Linked DNA regions of Homo sapiens: region 1 is linked to region 2. The links come from fine-mapping of genetic effects on gene expression. Tissue or cell type: blood mononuclear cells. Region 2 holds a variant in brackets; the other region holds the start of a gene. Each region is shown on its reference strand, or each on the opposite one. Region 1 holds the start of GSTA4 (glutathione S-transferase alpha 4). Region 2 overlaps ZC3H12A (zinc finger CCCH-type containing 12A).

What was found. PIP is the estimated chance that this variant, and not a neighbour inherited with it, causes the effect.
Region 1: it holds the start of GSTA4, and the variant in region 2 is the best candidate, but not a certain one, in a credible set for the expression of GSTA4 in blood mononuclear cells (TOPMed, PIP 0.67).

The regions. Positions count from the first base shown.
Region 1 is chr6:52,994,046-52,996,951 of GRCh38, reverse strand. It overlaps GSTA4 (glutathione S-transferase alpha 4), which reads left to right and starts at 1,668. Exons shown (of 7, transcript NM_001512.4): 1 at 1,668-1,703; 2 at 2,691-2,795. The coding sequence starts at 2,709. RN7SK (RNA component of 7SK nuclear ribonucleoprotein) reads right to left here and starts at 1,332; the gene lies at 1,001-1,332. RefSeq lists silencers at 1,095-1,184, 1,516-1,747 and an enhancer at 1,345-1,564.
Region 2 is chr1:37,476,155-37,479,060 of GRCh38, reverse strand. The region is part of intron 2 of ZC3H12A (zinc finger CCCH-type containing 12A); the gene reads right to left. Among named protein-coding and RNA genes, the nearest start is that of MIR6732, 2.6 kb to the left of the region's middle. RefSeq lists enhancers at 1-136, 1,527-1,826. The variant G/C (reference allele first, on the strand shown) is at 1,573.

The DNA of each region.
Region 1 (2,906 bases), not on the chromosome of region 2:
TACTACCCCAATTCATTCGCCTCACTTTGGCCAGAGAAACCTATTGAAAATAAAATCTGATCATGTTAGCGGCTGCAATTGTTCAGCACCCAGGCTTGTCAAGCAAGGTACTCTCGAGCGCCCCCGTGGGTGAAGAAAATAACAACATCTATAGCCTGAGAAATAGCAGAAGCTGCCTCTAAAAACAAAATTTATTTTCGAAGGCATATATTTCAAACTTTGAAATCCATGTGAATTTTGCAATTGTTCCATAATATAGCCCTGATAGTTTTAATATATTTTTAATGTTTTAACTAACTTGCCAGCCAAATTATTCTTTTAGCACCACCCCCAACTCCAAAGACCCCCTTCCAAACAGGTGCTGACTTGAGACCGTGACTATAGAGCACTTGTCTCTAAAATGTACAAAATGAAGAGAAATCTCAAGATGTCCCACTGAGATGAAGAAAGAAAGAAGAAAATATGTATGTTTGTATACATGTATACATGTATATATATGTATACACAAAATTAGAAAAGTTAGGGTCTACTGTATAAATTAAATAAGCGTTGACAGTGCTTTTGATTTTAATCTGTATGTGGTACTTTGCCTGCTTAACACCCTTATGTGGATTTCCTGACGGACTTGACATTCCTGTCAGGAAAGCATTGCGTACTTGCTGATTAAAAAGCATCTAAGGGCCGGGAGCGGTGGCTCACGCCTGCAATCCCAGCACGAGGCAGGAGGATCACCTGACGTCAGGAGTTCAAGACCACCCTGGTCAACATGGCGAAACCCCGTCTTTACTAAAAATAGAAAAATTAGCCGGGCATGGTGGCGCGCGCCTGTAATCCCAGCTACTCGGGAGGCTGAGTCAGGAGAATCGCTTGAACCCGGGAGGTGGAGGTTACAGTGAGCCGAGATCCGTCTCAAAAATAAAAAATAAATAATGAAAAAAATTAAAAATTTAAAAATTAAAAAACATTTAAAAAAGCATCTAACTTAGATGGGTAATGGGTCAAAAGAAAGGCAGACTGCCACATGCAGCGCCTCATTTGGATGTGTCTGGAGTCTTGGAAGCTTGACTACCCTACGTTCTCCTACAAATGGACCTTGAGAGCTTGTTTGGAGGTTCTAGCAGGGGAGCGCAGCTACTCGTATACCCTTGACCGAAGACCGGTCCTCCTCTATCGGGGATGGTCGTCCTCTTCGACCGAGCGCGCAGCTTCGGGAGGGACGCACATGGAGCGGTGAGGGAGGAAGGGGACACCCGCCTAGCCAGCCAGATCAGCCGAATCAACCCTGGCGATCAATGGGGTGACAGATGTCGCAGCCAGATCGCCCTCACATCCGAGGTACCCAAGCGGCGCACAAGCTATATAAACCTGAAGGAAGTCTCAACTTTACACTTAGGTCAAGTTGCTTATCGTACTAGAGCTTCAGCAGGAAATTTAACTAAAATCTAATTTAACCAGCATAGCAAATATCATTTATTCCCAAAATGCTAAAGTTTGAGATAAACGGACTTGATTTCCGGCTGTTTTGACACTATCCAGAATGCCTTGCAGATGGGTGGGGCATGCTAAATACTGCAGTCTCCATTGGTGAGGTCGTCCCGGAGCCTCGCCCAGCTCCCGCGCGCTAGAGCCGCCTGCTGGTCTCACCCAGCCGGGACCGCTGACCTGGCGCTTTGTGCGGCTCCAGGCCTCCGAGTGGACTCCAGGTCTGTCTCCCTCCTGCGGTCGCCCCCTTCCTCGCCCTTTCTCTCTTCTTTTTTTTCCCTCCCCTTTACTCTCTGAGTCTCACTCTCGCATTCTTCCCTCACTCCCCCAGTTCAGTCCTTCTCTTGTCTTTTCTTCCTCTTGTCCTTTGTCCTCCTGCTCCATCCAGTCTGGGCAGAGGTGGGCCCCTTGGCTGGAGCTGGGGTCCTTCTTGGCTCAGTGTGCGTATTTTTTTTTAAACCCCTTCTGCGGAGTCTGAATGCATTGGTGGAAGGTGGGCTCGGATCGTCCCCGGGCCTGGCTGGGCTGCCGCTACGCCCCTGCATGGGCTGAGCGGGGAAGACGAGCATGGGAGAGTGCGATCTCAGATGGCCAAGCCCTGGCCCCCGGCTCGTTTTACAAGGCCGGGGGCTCATCTCCCTGTAGGGGTGGTGGACACGCGGGACCCGGGGGGCGCAGCCACCGCATGCGTGACGGTGGACGCACATTTTGCAGACAGTAGTAGTACTCGGCCTGTTCACCTTCCAGTTGCCGTGATAATAAAATATGATGATGTATGTAAAAGCATGAATACTTGAAGAGCTTCCAGTGGCTGTGCGATTTTCCTTCGCTACCCTCTTCAACGCCTGCCACCCCCTATCCCCCAGCTGAATTTGGAAAATCTGAGATTCTCGAGGTCAAAATATATAATATTCTGAATTTGTGAAATCCCGTACTGCTAGCACATATGTTTTTACAACAAATGGCCCCAGCTTCCCAAGATCCAGGATAAGAAGTCATAAATAGAAATCATATAAAAGCCAAGGTTTTTTTCTCCATGTTTTAAAATGGTGGTTTTTTTTTCTTGAGTGAGGGAAAATGCAGCAACAAAAATAAAGAACAGTTTCCCGTGCCAAAATCCTGAATATTCATTTCGCCCCTGAGCACTGGGTTGAAGACGCGAAATTGGGACTGTTGGTCTGCGACGAGCTGCTGCATTTGTATTTCAGAAAGCCTGAAAAGCTATCATGGCAGCAAGGCCCAAGCTCCACTATCCCAACGGAAGAGGCCGGATGGAGTCCGTGAGATGGGTTTTAGCTGCCGCCGGAGTCGAGGTACCTTATATGCTGTTTCTTCACGGATTTGTCATACAGCTTTTGAGACCTTTGAAAGAAAAATACGTTTTGAAGCACCGTTCAGTTCTAGTTCTCGTCCACCAAAATCAC
Region 2 (2,906 bases):
TAATGGGAGTGGGGGAGGTAAGGGGTGATAGCTGGAGCCCTAAGAGAAGCTAGGGAGGGAGGTGGGGCAGCTGGGGGCCATGGAGGCTATTTGGGGGCAAGACTGGGGCACCAGGGTCTGAAGGTCTCTAAATTGTAGGGGAGACAAAGTCCAGCCCAGGGCAGCACTCATCCTTCCCGGTCCCTCTGCCACATCTGCCAGCCTGCTTATAATAAAAGTTCCCATTTGCTGAGAGCTGTGAACCAGGCCCTGTTATAAGTGTCTAACACTGAATCATCAGCAAGCTTGTGAGGAGGGCACTATACCATCATCAACTCCTTCCCTGTTTTTCAGATGAAAACTGTGGTCCAGAGAAGGCAGCTTAGTCACCAGGGTCACACAGCAGTTAACGGTGGAAGAGAGACGCAAGCCCAGGGCCTATGCTTATCACTACCCTGTACGTCAATGCTCAGGCAGGTACGAAGGCAGGCACAGACCCTGATCGCAGGGAATGAGCAGGGATTCGCAGGCACTGAGCTCCCGCTGGTGGCCAGATATATGGCTTCATTCTTATAGGGCTTGCTACCGTGAAGGAAAGGAAGGTCACCTGGCTAGTGGTAAGAGACAGTCAGAACTCGAACCCAGGTCTGGGCCACTCGGTTGCCTTCCTGTCTCTAACAGAAGATCCAGAATTTATTTGGGAGAACAAAGCTCCCAAAATTGAGTTTGAACAAAGTGTGTTATGAGAGACAGGTGGCGAACGGGAGAAACAATGCTGCTGGCAAACTCCTGCTCTTCCTTCAGAACCCTTGTGAGATGTCACTGCCTCTGAGAAGCCTTCCCTGACCTGCCACAATAGGTCAGGTCCCTGGTCTGTGTCTTCACAATGCCCAGTGCTTCCCCCATCACATCACCCCCCTTCCTTGGGCCTTCTGGCCTGCCTCTCAAAACCATGGCAGCTGGGTCATCCCAGGCCTGGCTCCTTGTCTCAGGTATGCAGTGTGCGCATGTATCCGCCCACCTGCCTCCCTCCGGGCACATGATCCTAGGCTAGTATCTTGGAGCACTGGGAACTAATGGGATGCCAGGGCTCTCAGGGCAGTGCACTGCCTGTGGGCACTGAAAATCTTGGCTGGGACAAGTCGGTTCTCAGCAGCCCTAGCACCTGAATATTCCCTCAGCAGATGGAAAAACTGATCAGTGGGCGCTATCAGAGCCCTCCTCCTGGTAGAGCACATGAGGCCTGGAGTGCCCCCCTACAGCTAGCTTTAGTCTCTTTCACTGCACTGGAGGAAGCGCTGCTGGCACAGGAAAACCAGACATCCCTGCCCCCATTCCAGTTCTCTTTGCCTGTAAGGTCAGGGTCCCCCAGCCGGGCTAAGCAGACACTGATAGGATGTGTGTGTAGAAGACTCCAGCTAGGCTGCTCCTGCCCCAGGACAGAAGGCAGGGCTGGGCCAGCCTCCCCAGGTGAAAAGATATGCCTGGGCTGGGCCTGGCGAGTGGAAAAAAATTCCCTTAGAAGGAAACAGAGGTGAATTTCCCCATGATTTGCATATGATGGGGGGGCTAGCCCGCCTGCCCCTGGGGAGG[G/C]GGGGTGGCCGGGCAGGAACCGAGTAGCAGCTGAGACAGGAAGTTTGAGGCTGGAATTCCCCTCCTGCCACTACCCCAGCTCAGAAACCCCCGAGGTGGGTGCGTGGCTCTGCTTCTCAGGAGCAGGCTCCTCTGAGCACCCCTCATCACAGCCCCTCCTCCCATGTCCCTCCTCCTTCTGGATACAAACACATACTGCATATGGCTGCTCCCAGGGCTCAGCCGCTCCTGGCCCATACCTCCAGAGGAAGGAGTCACACAGATCCAACCTAGCTCCTAGCCCAGCTACATGAGGCTGGACACTGAGAGGGACCCCTTCTAATCTCGAAGCATGGGCTGTGACCTGCTGCCTCTTGGCATGGAAACTGGATTTTCTCAGCCTCCCATCCAGGCTCAGCCCAAGTCAGAGAGAGGAAGACTGGCCTGAAGGTGACAGAAGGAGGGAAGAGCACTCAGCTGCATGCCTGCTGAGCTGGGCCAGGGCCAGCTGGACAGTGAACTTGTCCCACAGGGGCCACAAATTAGGGAGGGCAGAGGCTGATGTCATGCCAGCCTTGGGCAGCCCACCTAGGAGCTCCCTCAGGGCAGCCAGAAAATCATCCCTTCTCAACCCTGTGTCTGGGGTCTCCCCGTCCATGCCAACAGGAACTTTTCCCTGTGAGCCATCCACCCAGCACTGACTCATCAGCCTGCCTTGGAGGGAACTGGGAAAAAAGTGGGGCCAGAGGGTGGAGCCTGGATTGACGGGAGAAGTCTGGGTTTCCCAAGGTCAGCAGCAGCCCTGGCTTCCCTCTCTGCCCCTACCTCCCCACCCCATTCCTGTGCTGGGGGATGGGGGTGGGAGTCACTGGGGGCTGAGTCCTGGCTCTGGCCCCGGGGAACCTCCAGAGACTGGTCCAGCCCAGGCTGCTTCAGCTGAGTCAGTAGGGATCCAAGTTGCAGCTCGCCTGAGGCCAGAGCATCAGGCCACCTGCCCACAACCCATGTAAAGCTGGACCCAGCCTTGAGGTCACTCTTGGACACAGTCACTGGACCTGTTTTCGTGGGAGCCCAGGTCTGAGACAAGAAGGCCTCAGAAGCCCAGCCCCTGAAATAACAACAACAACTGCTACTACCACTGCCTACTACCACTACTATGGTTCCTGAACGCTTGCTCCTCTCCGGGATCCGCACACTCCCTCCTCACAACACCCACCTGAGATCAGGTTCCGAGGGGTGAGTGAGCAGCTGCCCACGGGCTGGTCCCCTTTACAGCCCTGCCTCACATTACAGGAGAGGAGTGGAGACACAGTGCTGGCCTCAGGGAGGGACCCACAGCATAAGGTAAGCTCTGC